2 separate regions of the Homo sapiens genome follow, and region 1 is linked to region 2. Evidence: fine-mapped expression QTL. A gene starts in region 2. The other region holds a variant in brackets. All regions are shown on one strand. Distances are from middle to middle.

The links. PIP is the estimated chance that this variant, and not a neighbour inherited with it, causes the effect.
Region 1: its variant is the best candidate, but not a certain one, in a credible set for the expression of LSM6 in whole blood (INTERVAL, PIP 0.67).

Annotation. Positions count from the first base shown.
Region 1 is chr4:146,017,979-146,029,473 of GRCh38, forward strand. No RefSeq gene overlaps it. Among named protein-coding and RNA genes, the nearest start is that of ZNF827, 85 kb to the left of the region's middle. The variant A/G (reference allele first, on the strand shown) is at 4,687.
Region 2 is chr4:146,170,785-146,180,971 of GRCh38, forward strand. LSM6 (LSM6 homolog, U6 small nuclear RNA and mRNA degradation associated) reads left to right here and starts at 4,934. Exons shown (of 4, transcript NM_007080.3): 1 at 4,934-5,027. RefSeq lists a silencer at 5,084-5,143.

The DNA.
Region 1 (11,495 bases), 150 kb before region 2:
TCCCGGCATCTGGCAACCATCCTTCTATTCTGGAACTGCAGGAGCTCAATTACTTGAATTTTCAGCTCTCACAAATAATTGAGAACATGTGAAGTTTGTCTTTCTGTGCCTGGCTTATTTCACTTAACATAATGACCTCTACTTCCATCCATGTCATTGCAAATGACAGGATCTCATTCTTCTTTATGGCTGAATAGTATTCCATTGTGTATATGTACGACATTTCCTTTATCTATTCATCTGCTGATGGGCATTTCGGTTGCTCCCAAATCTTGGCTATTGTGAACAGTGCTGCAATAAACATGGGAGTGCAAATATCTCTTCAATATATTGATTTCCTTTCTTTTGGGTATATACCCAGGACTGGAATTACCAGATAGTATGGTATCTCTATTTTCAGTTTTTGAGGAACCTCCAAGCTGTTCTCCACAGTGGTTGTGCTAATTTACATTACCACTGACAGTTTATGAGGGTTCCGTTTTCTTCACATCTTCACCAACATTTGTTATTGCCTACTTTTGGATGAAAGCCATTCTAACTGGGGTGAGATGGTATCTCACTGTAATTTTGATTTGCATTTCTCTGATGATCATTGATGTTGAGACATCATTGAAAACTATTTGCCACTTGTATATATTCTTTTGAGAAATGTCTATTTAGATTTTTTGCCTGTTTTAAAATCAGATTATTGGAATTTTTCCCATAGAGTTGTTTGAGCTCCTTATCTATTCTGGTTATTAATCCCTTGTCAAATGGGTAGTTTGCAAATATTTTCTCCCATTCTGTGGGTTGTCTCTTTACTTTGTTGATTGTTTCCTTTGCTGTGCAGAAGTTTTTTAACTTGATGTGATTCCATTTGTCCATTTTTGCTTTGGTTGTCTGTGCTTGTGGGGGTATTCCTTAAGAAATCTTGGCCCACTCCACTGTCCTGGAGAGTTTCCCCAATGTTTTCTTAATAGTTTCATAATTGGAGGTTTTAGATTTAAGTCTTTAATTCATTTTTATTTGATATGGCAAGAGATTAAGTCTAGTTTCATTCTTTTGCATATGAATATTCAGTTTTTACAGCACCATTTATTGAAGAGACTGTCCTTTCCTCAAAGTATGTTCTTGGCATCTTTGTCTAGTGAGTTCACTGTAGTTATATAGATTTATCTCTGGGTTCTTAATTCTGTTCCACTGATCTACGTGTCTGTTTTTATGCCAGTACCCTGCTGTTTCGGTTACTATACCTCTGTACTATGATTTAAAGTCAGTTAATGTGATTCCTTCCATTTTGTTCTTTTTGCTTCATATGGCTTTGGCTATTCTGGGTCTTTTGTGGTTCCACATACATTTTAGGATTATATTTTCTATTTCTGCGAAAAATGTCATTGGTATTTTCATAGGGTTGCATTAAATCTGTAGATTGCTTTGGATAGTATGGACATTTTAACAATATTGTCTCTTCCAATTTATAAACATGGAATATTGTTCCATTATTTGTGTCCTCTTTAATTTCTTTCATCCACATTTCATAGTTTTCATATAGTCTTCTCTCTTCTTAGTCTGACTAAACATTTGCCACTTTAGTTTACCTTTTCAAAAAACCAACTTTTTGTTTTGTTGATCTTTTGTATTGTTTTCTGTGTTTCAATTCTTTTCTTCTACTCACTTTAGGTTTGGTTTGCATTTGCTTTCCTAGTTTTTTAAGACGCATCATTAGGTTATTTATTTGACTTTTTTCTTCTTTTCTGATGTAGGCACTTATAGCTATAAACTCCTCCCTTAGTACTGCTTTAGCTGTATCCCATAAGTTTTGGTATGTTGTGTTTCCATTATCATCTGTTTCAAGAAATTTTTCAATTTCCTTTAAAAATTTGTCTTATTGACCCATTGGTCATTCAGAAACATATTTAATTTCCATAGCTTGTATAGTTTCCAGAATTCCTCATGTTATTGATTTCTAGTTTTATTCCATTGCAGTCAGAGAAGATGCTTGATATGATTTCAAAGTTTTTGAATGTTTTAAGACTTGTTTTGTGACCTAACATATGATATATCCTTGACAATGATCCATGTGTTGAGGAGAAGAATGTGTATTCTGCAGCTGTTGCATAAAATGTTCTGTAAATATCTATTAGGCCCATTTGGTCTATAGTGCAGATAAAGTTTGAAGTTTCTTTGTTGATTTTCTGTCTGGAAGATCTGTCCAATACTGAAAGTGGGGTATTGAAGTCTCCAGCTATTATTGTATGGGAGTCTCTCTCTCTTTAGTTCTAATAATATTTGCTTTATATATCTGGATGCTCCAGTATTGGGTGCATATATATTTACAATCCTTATATCCCCTTGCTGAATTGACCTCTTTATTATTATATAATAACCTTCTTTGTCTCTTCTTATAGTTTTTGTCTTGAAATCTATTTTTTCTGATGTAAGTATAGCTGGTCCTGCATTTTTGTGGTTTTCTTCGGAATGGAATACCTTTTTCTATACCTTTATTTTCAGTCTACATGTGTCTTACAGGTGAAGTCTGTTTTTTGTAGATAACAGATCATTGGACCTTGTTTTTAAAATCTTTTCAACCACTCTATGTCTTTTGATTAGAGAGTTTAATTCGTTTATAGTCAATGTTATTATCAATAAGTAAGGGCTTACTCTAGCCATTTTGTTGTTTATTTTCTGGTTGTTTTGTGGTCTTCTCCTTCTTTCCTTCCATTCTGTCTTTCTTTTAGGGAAGGTGATTTTCTATGATGGTATAATTTAATTTTTTGCTTTTCATTTTTTGTGTATTTATTGTATTATTTTATTTGAGCTTACTACAAGGCTTGTAAATACTGTCTTATAACCCATTATTTTAAGCTGACAAAAACTTAACACTGTTTACATAAACAAACAAGGAAAAAGAAAACTAATAAAAACTCTATGCTTTAACTTTGTCTCCCTGCTTTTTAACTTTTTATTGTTTCTATTTATATCTTATTGTATTGTCTACATCTTGAAAAGTTGTGGCTATTATATTTGATTGATTCATTGTTTTGTCTTTCTACTTAGATAAGAGTAATTTACACACCACAGTTATAAACACGCAGTGTTATAATTGTCTGTGTGTTTTCAGTGTACTTACTATTACCAGTGAGTTTTGCACTCATTATTCATTATGTCCTTTTCTTTCTCAGTGAAGTATTTCCTTTAGCATTTCTTATAGGACAGGTCCTATAATGATGAAATCCCTCAGCCTTTGTTTGTCTAGGGACATCTTTATTTCCCTCATGTTTGAAGGGTTTTTTTTTGTTGTTGTTTTATTGTTTTTTTGTTTTTTGTTTTTTTGTTTTTTTTTGGCCAGATATACCATTCTAGGGTAAAATGTTTTTCCTTCAGAACTATAAATATGTCATGCCACTCTCTCCTGGCCTGTAAGGTTTTCATTGAAAAGTCTGCTGCCAGATATATTGGAGCTTTATTGTATGTTATTTGTTTCTTTCCTTTTGCTGCTTTTAGGATCCTTTCTTTAACCTTGACAATTGGAAGTTTCATTATTAAATGCTTTGTGGTCATCTTCTTTGGGTTAAATCTAGTGAGTGTCCTATAACCTTCTTGTTCTTGGACATTGATGTCTTTCTCTAGGTTTGGGACTTTCTCTGTTCTTATCCCTTTGAATAAAATGTATACCCCTGTCTCTTTCTCTACCTCTTCTTTAAGGCAAATAACTCTTAGATTTTCCTTTTTGATGCTATTTTCTAAATGCTGTGGGTTTGCCTTATTATTTTTTGTTCTTTTTTCTTTTGTCTCTTCTGACTGTGTATTTTCAAATAGCCCGTCTTTAAGCTCAGTAATTCTTTCTTCTGCTTGATTGTTTCTGTTATTAAAAGACTCTGAGGCATTCTTCAGTGTGTCAATTGCATTTTTCCACTCCAGAATTTCTGCTTTATTCTTTCTAATTACCTTAATCTCTTTGTTAAATTTATCTGATAGAATTCTGAATTCCTTCTCTGTATTATCTTTAATTTCTTTTGAGTTTCCTCAACACAGCGAATTTGGATTCTCTGTCTGAAAGGTCACATATCTCTATTTCTCCAGGATTGGTCCTTGGTGTGGTGTTTTATTTAGTTTATTTGGTGAGATCATGACCTCACCATGGATGGTCTTGATGCTTGTGGATGTTCATCTATGTCTGTGCATAGAAAAGTTAGGTATTAATTGTAGTCTTTGCACTCTGAGCTTATTTGTTCCTGTCTTTCTTGGGAAGGTTTTCCAGCTATTTGAAAGAATGTAGGTGTTCTGATCTAACCCATATCTGCATTACAGGGCACCCCACACCCAGTGACATTGTGTTTCTTTCAGACTTGTAAAGGTACTGCCTTGATGGTCTTAGATAAGATCGGGAAGAACACTCTGGATTACCAGGCAGAGACCCTTGTTTTCTTCCTTTCACTCAAACAAATAGAGACTCTTTCTCTCTGTTCTGAGACACCTGGGGCTGGGGCTGGGGTGACACAAACACCCCCATGACAACCACCACTGGGACTGTACTAGGTCAGACCTGAAACCAGCACAGCACTTGATTTTGCCCAAGGCTCACTGTAACTACTACCTAGCTGCCACCTATGTCCACTCAAGGCCCTGATGATGTACAGTCAGCAGGTGGCAAAGGAGATAGGCTGGTGTCTTTCCCTTCAGGATGCTGAGTTTCCTTAGGCCCCA[A/G]GCAGGTCCAGAGGTGCCATCCAGGAACCAGGGCCTGACATCAAAAACCTTAGAAGTCTATCTGGTGCTATATTGCACAATAGCTGAGCTGCCACTCAACTCACAAGATGCAGTCCTTCCCACTCTTCCCCCACTTTCCACAGGCAGAGGAGCCTCACCTCATGGCTACCACCACAGGCCCAAAGGGAGTACCCCCAGGCTACTGCCAATATCTCCCTTAAGGCCTAAGGGTTCTTCAGTCACTTTGTGGTGAATGCTGCCTGGCCTGTGACTCTTCAGGGCTGTGGGCTCCCTCTGGTCCAGGGAAGGTCCAGATATGTTATTCAAAAGCCAAGGCCTAGAATCAGGGACCCCAAGAACCCACTTGGTGATCTACTCTACTGTGGCCAAGCTGGTACTTCAGGTGCAAGACAAAGTCCTCTTTACCTTTCCTTCACTTTTCTCAAGCAGGAGGAGTTTCTGCCCATAGCCACCACAGCTGGAAATGTACTGAGTCTTACCTGAAGCCAGCAAGTCTCAGAGTCTCACCCAAGGCCTACGGCATACTACCTGGGTATTACTGCTAATTGTTCAGGGCCCAAGGGTTCTTTAGTCAGCAGGTGATGAATCCTTCCAGGACTCGGTCCTTCCCTTCAAGGCAGCAGGTTCTCTTCTGGCCCAGGGTGTGTCTAGAAATGTCCTGAAACTAAGGCCTGGATGGAGGCCTCATAACTCTGACTTGTGCTCTATCCTAATGTGGCTGAGCTGGTATCAAGATGCAAGACAAAGTCCTCTCCATTCTTTGTTCTCCTCCCCTCAAACAGAAGGGAGGGGTCTCTTTTGGAGCTGTGAGCTGTGCAGACACCTGAAAGGTGTCTCCCTAGGTCACATGCCCCTCAGTTCACTGGCTCAGAGCCCAGTTCAGCCCTAGGACTTGCCTATGAGTTGCAGTCCTTGTGGCCCAGACTGCCTTTTGAGTTTATTTAGGACTCCAGAGCACTTTAGCTCACGGTGGAAAGCCTTGCTGGAACTCAAGTTCTGACCACTGGGATGGGCGATGCTCCTCTGCTTAGGACTGGTTTAAATACTTCCTCTGTGGGCAGGTGTCAGAGGAGTTCAGCTCAGTTTTGCTTTCTGTTGTGACAGAGCACTACTGTGTTCAATGCAATGTCTCACAATTGCTGTGCTCTCCTTCTCCCAAGCACACAGATTTCCTCTCCACACCACATGGCCACTGCTGGGGCTGGGGGAGGAGAGGTGTCAGCAATTCAAGACTGTCTCCTATTCGCCTCACTACCTCATTCAGTGATATGAAGTTAAAACCAGGTACTGTGAATGCTCACCTGATTGTTGGTTCTTATGAAGGTGTTTTTTGTGTGTAGATAGTTGTTAAATTGTTGTCCTTGGGGGAGGGGAGATATTGGTGGAGGCTTCTATTTTGTCATCTTGCTCTGCACCTTCTCCTCAAAGCATTCTTAATTGAATGAAACATGACCAAATGATCACCTCATCTGGGATCTTCCCTCCACGCCTCCAGGTTATTAATGTATCATGTGTATTTGCAAATTATTTTATTGTACGTATCCCCCAGAGCTATATTAATTGCTTTCTCATTTATCTGCTAGGTATTGAGCTTGGAAGTGCAGGGCCAATGTCTTGTTTCTCCTGAATATTTAGCATCATTCCAGGTCCATACTCAATACTCAAAAAATGATTGTTGAGTGAAGGGAAGACATAGTCTCCCCTCTGTGACAGACACTGATTGTTGTCTTTCCCCTGCCGCCTGTCCCCATAGCCATACTATCCTCTGGCTGCAGCACTCTTCCTATCCTGCTCTATCCCTAATGTGCCCACTCTCCTTTCCCCCTCATTCCCCAGAGCACCACTACCATAGGGTATTGGGTATAGTCACTTAAGTGTAAGCCTGTCACGCTCAGTAAGAGTTTCAGAGTGATGCATGGAGATTTTAGCATAGCTGAGAACAGAGTACAACTTAAAATGAAGTTCCATATTAGACATCACCATCTGAAATTCTTCAGTGATTTGTACCATGGAGTATCTCATATTGGTTGTCTTTCTCTGCAGGGCCTGGCCTGCTGCCATTTTCTCTCTCAATTTCTCTCTCTTTCCCATTCTTTCTCTCTCCCCCCAGAAACCTCCTTTTCTTCTCCTTCATTTTAGAACACACTATCTGTATTTCCTCACTTCATTATGTAAATATATTGACAAATTTAATTCTCAAGGTCTTTCCAAATCAGGTCTGGACTTACTTTTGAATCTCAATGGTATCTTGTTAAACAAAAGTGTCATCTAACTCTGATGACACTTGGCACAAGGTTTTCGTTTATTTGTTTGTTTGTTTTGAGACAGTCTTGCTCTGTTGCCCAGGCTGGAGTGTAGTGGCACAATTATAGCTCAATGTAACCTTGACCTCCTGGGCTTAAGTGATCATCCAACCTCAGCCTCCCAAGTAGCTAGGACTATAGGCACATGCCACTGCATCCAGTTAATTTTTAACATTTTTTGTCTATATGGGGTATCACTACATTGCTAAGACTGGTCTCAAACTTCTGGCCTCAAGCAATCCTCCCGCCTCGGCCTCCCAAAATGCTGGGATTATATGCATGAGCCACTATGCCCAGCTCTTGGCAGAAGTTTTGAAATTCATTTTTCGTCTACTAATGCAGGTTCTTCAGCAGGGTTTATTGGAACCTGTAATCTGTGGGCTAGAGGTGGAATGGAGGTGGAGCGGTTCTTATTCTTGCTACAGATAAAAAAAACCATGATGATTTATCTTAGAAAAGAAAAAGCTAAGGAACAGTTTAATAGTCTTCAAATAAAAATTTTATTAGTATCTTGAGAGAGGAGAGTGGTGGCTCTGATAATCCTAAATTTATGAACAACTTTGAAATGTGTATGTTTGCACACTTGACTTAGCTAATTTTATAAAGAGTTTGTATTCACCTGGTTTTTGAGAATATGCTATCTAGGTCAGAAAAGGAGATGGTGCTGTGGTAATGTACAGGGTAACAGAGAAACTTAATTTAGGATTACAAAAAATGCCACAATGTGGATAATTAAGAGCTAGCTGTCCAAGAAGAGATATTATGTAATCATTCTTCAACCCCAGGAGCAACAGAAGTGGGACGAGAGAAGAGAAGAGTGAAGAAGCAGAGGTGTTCTGTTTTTACTCTTGTGGTGATAAAATGTTCTGCAATCTCTGCTGAGGGGTTTCCTGTCCCTTTAAGCAAAAGGATCACATCACAAAGTGTTTCCATGCCAGCTTTTGACTATCTTAGTTCACTCAGCTGAAATGATGGCTTTAGAAGCTGGTAGTACAGTGTAGACATACAGAGCCTACTTCAGCCAAGGACAGTGTTCCTTGGAATAGCTTCTACTGAGCTTCTGAGAACTAAACCAAGATACCATGTGCTGAATTCTTCCCCTCACCACCTCCCATATGTTGTTTTCCTGAGGTTGGCATAGAATGAACACACAGCCAGAGAAATAAGAAAAGTAAGACCATCCTGCTGCCCTACAAGAAGAAAAGGCATGATTTAAAAAAACTCAGGTTGTAAGGGCATTTAGAGTACCCTGTTCCCCACAACATACTTGCTACCTCCACCCATGTGTCTGCCAAGGAAAAAAGAACCAGGCTAAATAGTTAATGGAGTGACCTAGGATGTAGCCAAAGTTTAGCTCAGTGTGGGTCTGAACTGGACTCCATCCAAGGCAGCAGGTTTTATAGAGTCTGCAAGAATTAAAGAGAAGACATGAAGGCTACTTTGGGAGTAGAGAGGCAAGGGGATAAGGTAGGTGGGTAGAAAGAAAAGAGTGTGGGAATCACATGACTCATCATGATAATGGCTATCATCAAGGTCTTACCTTTGGTTAGAAGTGGTGGGTACCTAGGTGCTTATGATATTATTAAAAACAATTAAACAAATAGGCAAAAGCAGGTTATAAATGAACCAATGATGGGGATGTGCCATGAATCAAGGACTATGATAAATCCAATGCCAAGCTCCTGAGATCAAAAGGGGAATATGATAGAGATTCATTCTCTTTCATAGTGCCGTTGAGTTTCTGACCCATATGTTAAAACTTCAAAATATTGAAAGGAATTTAGGAGAGAATGCACTGCATTGTCTGTGGCAGGTGATCCTCACAATGAATCTATGAATGTCCAGATGGTGCAATCTCACTCGATCCTCTCAAACAGTCCATGGATTTGGTATTATGTCCATTTCACAGATGAGGGAACCAAAGCTCAGAGAGATTAGATACTGTGCTTGAGGTTGCAGGGATAGGAAATGGTGTCATCAGGTTTATAACCTGGGTCTGCCTCCCGAAGCCTGAGGTAGCTCTCCGTTCTGCCATGTGACAAGTCAGTGGACCTGTGGAGAATGAGTGTTGGGTGGGCAAGAGTGTCATCCCTCCTCTCCCATGGGTCTGAATCTGGTGCCAGGTGTGTGGGCAGTATCTGTACTTTTACAATGATTCTTTCATACACTAAAAGCATAATCATCACCATCATCAGCATCATCATCATCATCACTCCTCCTCCTCCTCCCTCCATATTATGGACAGGCTCAAAATACCCAGTTTCTCAGAAGTCTTTGTTGTGGGTAATAAAAATACTTTTCCTAAAAACCAACTTTTATAAGTTTCTAATGTGAAACAATAGTTAACCCACGTCTCATAATCATCTGTCAGCCACAACATCAAAAACAACAATAATAACAGCAAAATATCACAATAGATATACAGCACTCTCAGGACTTGCAAGATGAAAATATGGTCACAAACTAGACTCAGTCCACAACACAAGGTCTTGTGATCTCTGTTTAGAGTCCTCATTACAGTGTCCTTTCAAATAGCCAGGCTTCAGCCTTTAATAGGTTTTGAAATCAATTTAGTGGGTCTTAGTATTTAAAAAATAGACTTTTGAATTAATCTACATTTTAAGGGTAAGTATTGTTTTGTAAGGTTTTTGTTTCAGTTCTATAGGTGTATATGTGTGTGTATGTGCATGCATATGCACATGTGTGTGCACTGCGTGTACACTTCTTACTGTGGTTATTTATCATAAGGACTTAAAGGCCCTGCTGCTGGGAGCATTAATGAATGCCTCTGAGGAGTTAATGAAAAGGTAGCTGGGAGGGTTCCCTGATCTTGTGCACCCATACAGACCATGAACACCTTCACATGCAGGATTTAAAACCATACTTCACAGGGCTAGAATTAGATATTGAGGCAAATCATGAATGCATGGCACTTTAAAGCAGATGACACCTGGGTATAATTTGGAAGATGAATGGTCAGCTAGGGAGTTGGGCTGGACAGAGCCATTCAGACCAAGTAATTGCAAGAGTTATAAAAGGGTAGGGAATGTTACGCCTTTAGAAATATTGTGGCCTAACTGCTACCTCACTGTCTTTAGATACATTGGGAAAGAATTTCTTCTACTTCTTATAGACAGTAATTATTTATTACTCCTTTTAAGAGTAATTTCACACACAAACACACACACACACACATATATATTTATCTCCAAAGTACCAATAAATAACACCAACAGCAGGAATTTTCATGGTTATTGTCTACTGGGTGTCAGGCACCCTATTAGGTGCTCTCCTGCATTATTTTTAATCCTCTCAAAGACCTTACAAGATTGTTCTTGTGGAAGTTTTACATATCAAAGAAGAGCAGCTATTGGTTTTGAGGAATTAAAGGGAAAGACTAGCTGGTTGTTCATGCACAAGACTCATAGGATTCCATTAACTTGGTGACTTTAACCGTGTCTTTAGCTCTGCAGGTTCAGACACCCACGTTTGTCAACAAGCTGAGAGTTGGTATCTCAGATATGGGTCATGTTATCCAGTGGAGGTGTGGACAACCAAAATGTCTCCTGATTAACCTATGATGACAATAAATGTGACACAGCCTGACCAGCCCATGGGAACTCATAACGCAATTAAAAGTTTGCTTGGTGAATGTTGATTTTAAAAAGGGGATGGTAGGTGACTATACAGGTTTAATTTTATCAGGTAAGAATGGCTTGAAGTGAGGTTACCAACCTTTACCTTTTACCTCAGTAGTTTCTCAGTGAGAAGAACAGACCCAGGGAACTTTTTGACATAAGAGTGATAGGCTCTGCCCCCAAAGCTCCAGTGCTCAGAGCTAGAGACTTCCACTTGGGCTTGAGCTAAAATGCTGGCCTTTGATATCTCATCCAGACTGAAGATAGGGCAGAGCCAACGTGACTTGCTTGCCTGCATGCACTATGAGAAACTGGAGCAGAAGGAAAGCAAAAGGAAGCCTGCTGAGGAGCTGAGGTACGAGGGCCCCGAGACTGGGCAGGCCAATCAAAGAAGGTGAAAGAGTGTGCACAAGCAATGCCCCGACTCCATCACCCCACCTTCTGATATGTAAAGCCAAGTGGTTGGTATGCTGTCTTGAGTCAGATTAGCTACTCTTACCCTGGTGAGAGAAGAATGAAAGGAGGGACAGAGAGACAGCATGCGTCAGTTCACATGTTCCCTAAAATGGTCTGCAAGTTGGATGGGGGGAAGTTCTCTCATCTGGAGCCTGAGGTGGAAATATGGGAAGAAGAATAACAATGTCTACAAAAGGGCAAGCACTGCTCTTGGCCAGGAGATGGGTATCTTTGACCAAGATGCAATTTTTTTTCCCTGAGCTGTTCTTAGATTGACTCATCAGCTTGCTCTGGAACCCCATAAAGGCAGGAGCAGAATTTGTTCATGCTCTTAGCACAGTGCTTAGCAAACTCTCAATGTATGTATGGAATACCTGCTTTTACTTCTCCT
Region 2 (10,187 bases):
GTTCTTGAACTTGACCCTGCTAGTTTACATTATGCTGCATTTTAACTGCACCACTGGGCTAGCAAAAAAAACGTCCACAAAAAGCACATGGATTTTATAACTCACCCTGAATAATTAAGGACATCTGTTTTTTGCTATAAACATTTTTTGAAAGCCTAAACATGAAGCACTGGTCCAATTCATTAATATTTTGGAATAAATTTAATTACTATATATTATAATAAAATGAGCTGTGTGTTTTTTTGTAGTTAAAAAAACCAGCATTTTCACATTATCAGTTAAAACCACATTAGAAAGTACATTTTAAAAATTGAAAGTGAGTTTATTGAAAATAAACTTGTTACTGGGTATTCTAGCAGAGAAAATCCCTTGAATATCTATGAATGCATTTTTAAGAGTTAAAAGAATCACATACCTTGGCAACCATTTGCTAATTTTGAAAGTATTCCCAAGTGTTTATATACTATATTTATTTAAATTGGCCATATGATTTTAATTGGTTTCACTGTGGTAGAATTAGCTTCATTGAAGTAGATGTACTCTCCTACAAGCTGAATAGCAGCCCTGTGTAGCACAGATTTCCAACATAAACTATAATTCATAAAGGCCAACACAACTCTTTTCTTTGTAGCTGGGTAACCATTTATGTTTGAGGTGAAGATGTTAATATGGAAATTTTGTGAGCTAGGAAAGAGGATGAACGCTATCACTCTAATTTATGACCTTTCATATAAGGCCAAATGTAAAGGCAACTTCAATTGTTTTATATCTCAGGGCCAGCACATAGCAGATGTATGAAATTTGGAGTGTTAGACATAAACTTTTATTACCAAATTATAAATAATTTCTCCCACTTATAATGTTCACCTTTCAAGTTCATCTTGATTAAAATACAAGGGCAGCTTCACACCGATTTCACTAAATTTTACAGCTGAGAGAGGTTTTCTAGAGTTCACGGTGGAGTATAAAGCATCACAGCATTTGGGAGATTCTCCTTCCAGGAGCTCAGACTCTGATCCTATCTCTTTTAAAATTCAAGTCATGCCAAAATGATGGCTGATGAAGTCCGAACATTATTTAAACATCTCACATGTTACATCTGAAACCAAGCGCCCATGATGTAGAATATATCACTTCCTTGGGTAAGCAAAACGACATACTACTTTTTCTGAGAAATTTGCCCACCAGTCAATGAGCTTGTATCACTTCTTAGAAGGTATTCAACAACCAGAGAGTGTCTGTCTGTTTCCTTATTTTCTTTTTTCCCCTCCCTCCCTCTTTCTTTTCCTTCTTTCTTTTTCTTTCTTTCTTTCTTTCTTTCTTTCTTTCTTTCTTTCTTTCTTTCTTTCTTTCTTTCTTTCTTCTTTCTTTCTTTCTTCCTTCTTTCTTTCTTTCTTTCTTTCTTTCTTTCTTTTTTCCTTCTTCTTTCTTTCTTTCTCTCTTTCTTTCTTCATTTAAGAAACAGTCTCGCTCTATCATCCAGACTGGAGTGCAGTGGCATGATCTCATCTCACTGCAACCTTAGCCTGTCGGGTTCAAGAGATTCTCATGCCTAGCCTCCCAGGTAGCTGGGATTACAGGCATGTGCCACTACACCCAGCTAATTTTTTAATTTTAAGTAGAGACGGGATTCAACATCTTGGCCAGGCTGGTCTTGAACTCCTGACTTCAAGTGATCCGCCAACCTTGGCCTCCTAAAGTGCTGGGATTACAGGTGTGAGCCACTGCCCCCGGCCTCTCTTCATTTTCTATAACAAATAATTTTCATATCCCATGATTAAAGGCAGATAATGGTGGCCCCAAGTATCCAAAACTAGCACATCACAGCTTATGAGCTCCTATTGTACAGTCTGAAGGTCCAGGAAAGGTTCAGGTCCATGCCAGCACTTCATACCAGTTAATGCATTGCTCCAACAAGACCAGCCAGTATTCTTGGAAGCTTAACATCCATGTTACATATTAAAATCTGCTTTGGAGAGTGTTGGTCAATCCAATTACATGTTTGTATTTATCATCATCATCATCATCATCAACAACAACCACAACAACATCACAATACATTCATCTACATGTTCACAGGGCTGTTGGGTGTTTAATAAGCTAGACATGAGACCATCTTTTATGAATATGAAACATTGAAGGACATAGTTATTTAAAGGCATATGTACTATAGAACTGTAGAAGGGACAAACAATGAAGTGGCAAGAGTTCTCTTAGCATTTATATATCTGCATTTGTCTATTTTAAGCATAATAGCTTCAAGAGAATGAAAAGACAAGCCATAAACTGGGAGAAAATATTTGTAAAACACATATCTGATAAAGAACTATTATTCAAAATATACAAAGGACTCTTAAAACTCAACAAAAAGAAAGAACAAACTGATTCAAAATTGGGCCAAAGACCTGAACAACCAAAGATATACATATGGCAAATAAGTATATAGAAAGATCCTCCATATCATATGTCACTAGGGAATTACAACTTTAAACAACTATGAGATAGTCACTAAGCAGCTATTAGACTAGTCAAAATCCAAAGGACTGGAAGCACCAAATGCCCATGAGGATGTGGAACAATGGAAACTCTCATTCACTCCTAGTGGGAATGCAAAATGGTACAGCCACATTGTAAGACAGTTTGGCAGTTTCTTACAAAACTAAACATACCCTTGCTATATGATCTAGCAGTCATACTCCTTGATATTTGCCCAAATAAGCTGAAAACTTATTTCTATACAAAAACCTGCATACACATATTCATAGCAGCTTTATTCATAACTTCCCAAACTTGGAAGCAACCAAGATGTCCTTCTGTAGGTAAATGGATAAATAAACTGTGGTACATCCAAATAATGGAATATTATTCAGAACTTAAAAGAAATGAGTTGTCAAGCCATGAAAAGGCGCAGAGGGGTCTTAAATGCATATTTCTAAGTGAAAGAAGCCAGTCTGAACAGGCTACACAGTGGGGTGGTGCAGTGTATGCACCACTAACTGTGTACGGTATGATTCCAAATATATGATATTGTGGAAAAAGGCAAAACTTTGGAGACAGAAAAAAGATCAGCGGTTGCCAGTGGGGAGGAAGGGATAAATAGGTGGAGCACAGAGAATTTTTAGGGCAGTGAAACTATTCTGTATGATACTGTAATTGTGGGTACATTTCATTATGCATTTGTCAAAACCTATAGAATGTGCAACACCAAGAGTGAACCCTAATGTAAACTTTGGCCTTTGGATGATAATGATGTGTCAGTGTAGGTTCATCAGTCCTAACAACTAAATGAAACTAAACTACATAAGTTAAACTAAAGCTTGCCAAAATATTTTTATGACTTTAAGGCTCCTTAATAAATTAATGTTTACATTCAGGGTTTTGAAGACTAGTATTCACCAAAAGTCTTGCAGTGTTTTCTTTGCATCATAAAAGATGCTGAAAGCAAAAACCTGGGAAATACGGAAAATTGCCTTGTGAGTTAGTAAAAGTCATTTATAAGCTGCTGAGGGGCTTTTGGGAACAGCCACACTTTTTATAAGCTTGTTAGCTCATGAATTAATTCAGGATGCCCACCCCGTGTGTCAAACTGGGCCCTTACCCAGCTACTCCCCTTAGAGAAGGTTGCAGCTGCTCAGCAGATGAACTAGGCCCTTAAAACTCCTCATGGCTCCCTACCCACCACACTAGTGTTAACGGCTCGATTAGGGCTCTGTAGGAAAGGGAAAGAAGTTTGAATCAAAAATTTTCTTTTTTTTTTTAATAATTTAAACAATCAGTAAGGAATGTGCAATTTGATGTCGTTTGCAAAGAAAGTTTTTAGGAACAGGGCTTTTTATCCTATTATGTTTGTTCTTTGCACGTAATTATTTGATTTAAATGGTACTTTTCTTAAAATTTTTATTTACATTGTATTTTATATTGCAAGAACTTCAAATACAGCCCTCACAATAAATCAGTAACTGTTCGGTCTTTATCCAAACTGAACTTTTATAGAAGGATATAAGGAAGTCTCTATTCTTTAACAAATCATATCCAGTTGTTTTCTGTCCCTGATATCAATCAAAAGTTCATTTCTTCTGCCTTTAACCAAAAGAAGTTTACAAGGGAGGAACTCTTTATCTTCGAAAAAAATTTTGCATCTTAGATTTTATAACACCTAATGGGGTTAAGGATCTGTGTTGAAAGATCTTATCACTCTGTGTATAGTGTTACAAATCATAAATATAATTAAAGTATAAGTTTTCAACTGATGAGAGTATATGTGGAGGGGGAAAAACGAATCAAGTCCTGGTGTAACAGTTCTCTTCTTTTTCCCTTTCAATTCCATTAATAGAAAGAGTATTGAGAATTCATGCAAAATTCCAAACCAAGTTCCCATAGTAGCACTGAAATAAGTCTGCACACCATTTCCAATAGGAACTAGTAATGTAACACAATTAATGTCATTATAATTTGGAGTTACTTGAGTGATTTTGATTATTTTTGTATCAATTAACATTGCCATGGAAACAGTCTCTTGCTAAAATGGCTTAAGTCTTCACACATTTAATCAATATCCAGAGGTAGATTTAAAGACTTGAGGTGTTTCATTTATTTATTTATTTGCTTTAAACTATTCAAGGACGTTTCTGGGTACACAATGCCGTTACTTAAACAGTAAATTCCAGTTTCCTATGACTTCAAGTTATTTTTTACACTTCTGTAAATAAATCCTGCCCAAAAGATCACTTCTAGTTTCCTGGAATTTTGTTTTTGTTTTGTATTGTATTTGTTTTGTACTCAGATTTCTGTTAGAGGAACTCCACTGCACCAATTTTGCTACTAGACAAACCAGGAATCTTGGATTTGCGCGCTTTGGTGCTGACAGGCTTTTTCGGCCCCAGCGGGCTGCCGTAGCAGAGAAGAGCACTGATTGGCTGAGGCAGAAAAGTGCCCCTGCCTCGGCGCTTTCGGTTTTGGCTGGGATCATCCGCGGCGGCCGGGCTCGTGGGGCGCCTGGAGTGAGGGTTCTGGTTCCCGCCGGCGAGGTGAGCCGCACCGCTGCGCGGGCCGACGACGGGGCCGGGCGCAGCCCCAGGTTCGGTGCCCCAGTGTTCAGTCGCGCTGTGGAGCGGCGGCTGCAGCGGCCCTAGGCCGGGCGAGGCAGCCCCGGAAAGGGCCTGCGGTGAACAGGCTGGGGCTCCGGGAAGGGACCGCTGGGTGGCGGGTCCCCGCGAAATGCCGCGTCCAAGCTCTCCGCGCATGGAATGGCTGGGAGAGGTCTGATGGTGGGCGCCGGGACCGCCCTCAGCGAGGCGCCTAGACTGCGCGGAGAGGAGCGGCACCGTCCCGGCTCCTACCGAGTTGGCGTCCGAGATCAATTCAGGTTGTTGAAGTTCCCCAGGGAGCCCCGACGCTAATCCCAAGATTCGGCGGGAAAGCGGATCCCGAACCCAGGCCTAGGCTTCGCCTGTCTTCCAGGAGGGCTTCAGGGAATTGCGAACCCTCTCCTACATCGGGGTGGCTGCGCCTGACCACAGGAATTAAAGGCTGGACTCGCCTGTCTTACCAAGTTGTCAGGTCGAGGAACCCGATTGTATGGTCTTAAGTCCTATCGCCCAAGGTTTTCTGTGCGTATGCGTGTCCGCACACCTGCATAGCAGGCATTTTTAAGGTGTGTAGGATTAAGATGATGCGGATTACCCTGCCCCACTGCTCTTAGTAATACGTGACTATTGTAGAAAATTGCAAACATAGAAGACTTTAGTGAAGAAAATAATATTCACTGAACCCTTTCACCTACGATCATTTTCTCTTGTATGTGCTAGCTTCTACTTGAACTAAGAGTGTACATGTTTAATCACTTAACAGTGTAGTTTTCCACTTCCATTTAAAAACTCTTCCTAAATATTATTCTAATTTTGTATCTTCTTTTGATTGTCCTATCATTGTGGGTCCCAGTTTAGGTCCCGTAAATTATTCAGTCATTTCCCGATTGTGGGACATTAGATTGTTTTTGAATTTTTACATCATCTTAGCATCCCAGATAGTGCTTTGATAAACTCTTTTCCCCCTATTTTTTAGATTATTTCCTTGGACTAGATTCTCAGAAGTGAAATTATCAGATTAGATGCTGTCATCTGAAAGGTCTGTTTTAGGCCTTCATACACATTGCTGCAGTGTTTTCCAAAAAAGTTTTAGAGATGTTTGGTAATTTTACTTGCTTAAATATTGTGCAGAAATCTTGAGAGGCTTGTGTTTGTGGTGTGTGTGTGTGTGTGTGTGTCACTGGCGTTAATGCGTTAGACTACCTGAATGTTAGGGCAGGAAGAGACTTAAGTGGTCATCTGGCATAACTCCCTTATATTGCAGATGAGGAACCTGGGGCCATGAGAAGTGAAATTATGAGTTATCCAAGTCACACAGCTAATTAAGTAGCAGAGCTGGGATTAGAACTCAGGTTTCCTGCCTCCCAAGTGAGTACTCTGTGCTGTATCAGGCAGTCTCTCACTGAACTGTGGCATAGTAGATACTAGAATTTAAAAATTTGTTTACATCACCTGGGTTATTCTCTCCTTTTAAAAGTGTACTAACAGATTTTAATCATCGGAGAGACCTGTAACACTGAAAAATTGGAAAGTGATCATTTTCATGGCCAAGACTAGAAATCCATTATTTAGAATGGCAACCCCTTCAAGATTTTGACAGTTGTTTTCAGGTTCCCTATATGTTAGAATAAAACACCCCTGATTAATTATAACCTACACTCCATCATTTGGTTAGAATGTAGCTTTTGGTTATCATTTGCGGTACCTTGGAGATTTCTTTAAAACTCCTCACTTTAAAACCAAAGAACAATTTTTTTTATTTTTATTTATTTTTATTTATTTTTTTATTTAGGGCTTATAGCAGAGATTGTCAACTTCCATTGACATTTTGTGCTGGGCAGTCCTTTGTTGTGGAGGGCCGTCCTGTTAGTTGTAAAATGTTTAGCAACATCCCTGGTCTCTACCCACTAGGATAGCAGTAGCACCACCTTCCTCAGTCATGACAGTTCAGTGTCCCCAGATATTTCCAAGTGTCCCTGAGCAGGGTGGGGCAGGGTTGGGGGTACTGCCCCTAGATGAGAACCATTTGCTTATAGAAATTATCTGGAGAACTTTATAAAATGTAAAATACAGTGCCTTTACCTGAGTAGACTTCGGGAAAATCTGCATTTTAACAAGCATCTCTAGATTTGGAAACAGCTGGTTCTTGAATGACACAAACAGTTGTTTTCTCAGTTTTTGGTGCTCATAATAGAGATTACTTGGTTAGTATTTGTTGAAGTACATGCATGATCCTACTGGTCACTGTATCCATAGTTTGGGCTGATGGGGGCTGGACAGGGATTTTGCTTGGCACTGGCCTTGAATGTCTCTTCCACAGACTTGGGTAGTGTGCTTAGGTACCAGGGACACCAAGTGAGTAAGATATTTTCCCTGTCCCCAAGAAGCTTTAAATTCGCACGGGAGACCAGTCAGCAAATGGAAAAATTACGAAACAGCCTGATAAGGGCCATGACTGAGAGTGGAAAGAGGTGCTCTGAGTGGACTCACTTCGCCTTTGGGAGAGAGGGAGAGAAGTAGCCCCTGCTGCCGAGGAAGGAGGGATTGGTATGAAGCCTTCAAAAGACAGCGAGGAACTCCACTGTGTCCGAAGGGAGGATTTAGAGAGCTGTTCTTCTGCCTATCTGATCGCCTCCTCAGACACTGATCTATTAGTCTAGTGCTGCAATTACTTGGATTGTAATGTTTCCTTGCAATTTTTGCTTTTCAAATTCTTTTCACCCTAAACTGTAAATACGCCAGGAGTAGGTAAAAACTTACAGGTAAACATTGCCAAGAAATAAGGATTTTCATGTCTTCTGCTCAGTGGCATAACTCAAATCACATGAGATAGATTTCTTTGCATCTGTCCATTGTATTTCTCTGAGGCTAATTTACAGCACTTTGTCACGTTAGGTATTTTTTTTCCCCAGTGCTGCTACTCTCCAACTGGATTTCTCACCGCCTCTATTGCGATTCCCCAAGATTTAACCAGAGAATCTTAACATATTCAGAAGGGCAGCTGTACCTGTGAAAGGGCTTGGGCTTTGGGGTCAGCCTTGGCTTTGCTTTCCACCTCACAGGGTTTCTCTGTAAATTGCTTATGAATCTAACTCTGGTAGCACATAGTTGGGTTAATAAAAGTTCTTTTTTTTCTTCATTCTTTTACCAAAAAGAAAAAAATTCCCTGCAGGGCACTTTGCAGATGTTTTCATACTAGACCTCTCAGTAGCTTCTGACAGAAAATATACTGCCTTTGACTTAATAGTCATTTATGAAAATAGGTCATTTAAAACAAGCCTGAGTAGGAGTCAGGGGAGGGAGAGGAGGTATAGAGAGTGATTATGACTTTAATTTTGAAAGGAGAAGTTTTACCAGGGTGACCCTGAAGAAAGGTCTTTTTCCTCTTATGTGTTTATGGTTCAAGAGACTCATCTCTTGCTTCAGAAATTGTCAGAACTGTTTCTTCTGCTTTATCCAATTTAAAAGATGAAAACTTAAAATTACTTGAGCCAAGTGATGGGAAAAATTGTGGTGTCAAGACCAATTTACTCATACAAAATGGATTTATGGGCAAGTCATTAAGTAACAGGGAGTAGCAAGGAAGCCTAATGAAGACTAATGTAAAAGATACGGCTTTCCTAAAGTGATGGATAAAATGTGTTTGAGGCAACCCATATACTCTTTTCCAAATAACCTTAGAAGTATTTTTTTTCCAAGAGGTTTAGTAGAATGTAGATATTCTAGAGAACAGATGAGAAGCTTGTGAGCCCCTCTTGTCATGTGGCTTACAGTATTTTGAGGGAGAAAAGACCCACATAAAGAATACAAAAGAGGGCATAGTGACAGGTTATAGCAAATAAAATCAAATGCCAAACTATGTGATGCCAAAAGTAGGTGAGATGGGCATCTGCACTCTGCTATGGAAAGTAGAGAGTGGAACCCAAGCAAGTTCCTGCTTAAAACCCCTGTTTCCTATCATTGACAACAGTATTTCCCCTTGCCAGTTATTTCCTAGGCTTGTTCAAATAGATTGCTGGCTCCTACCCCAGAACTACTGAGTAGAATCTCCAGCTGATCCTAATGATTCAAGTTTGGGAAACTGACCCAGAGCCTCAACTCTGTGCTCCCTGTGAATGTGGCACAGCTCCCTGCCGCAGAGGCGTCTCCTCCTTGCCTATGTAGATTTTACGTTCTACCCAGACACTTGTTCCGTGCCTTTTCTGACTTCTCTTCTTTCAGCTAGGGGGTGACGCCTTTTCCTTCAAATTCAGCTCAGGTGTTAACTTCCAGAAATTCTTTGATCTGCCAAGCCTGGGGTAAGAGAGTGTTCTCTGCCCTTTTGTGCATAATTCTATCAGAATACACATCACCTTTGTAAAATTCTGCATTTACATGTTTCTTGCCCTCTCTGGAATGTAAACTCTGAGGGCTTAAGGCCTTGTCTTTGTGTTACATTCCCCAACCCTGTGCGCCTGAACTTGACAGGTGCTCCGTGAAAGTTGGAAGTGTTGATTGCCTTCAGGAAGAGATTGATGTTAATTGGAATACAGATAAAGCATAATGGACAAGGCGTTATCTTTGGTGAGCTTAGAAGAACATATCTGTGTTTATAAAAAGGTGTGGAAAGTTAATATTAATAATACTTTTAAAATAACCTATACTGTCAAGCAACTGATAGTCAAGATTTGCATTCTTTTTTCTGACAGTTATTAACTCTTTCCAGCTTTTGCTTTTCAAATGTTTTTAATCTGAAACTGTAAATACTCTATGAGCAGATGAAATTAGTAATAATTAAAGTAGTTAATATCTCCATGAACTAGAATCACATTACAAAGCATTTTAGTGATTTTTAACACAAAATAGCTACTTTTATCTCAGTTTTATACATAATGAAACTGTGGCATAATGGGATTTAGCATCTGTGATAGGAAATGCACCTGACTCATCAGTTGAGTATCAGGCCTTCAGAGTTAATATTCTCTCTAGATGTGTTCAGCCTCAAAACAGCATGTATTCAAAATGTAAATAAGGCGGTTTATAGATGAATGGGAAGATTTGTGTATTTTCACTAAACTCATTAAAGGTACTGAATCTGTTACAGTATTTATTTTGTATTTT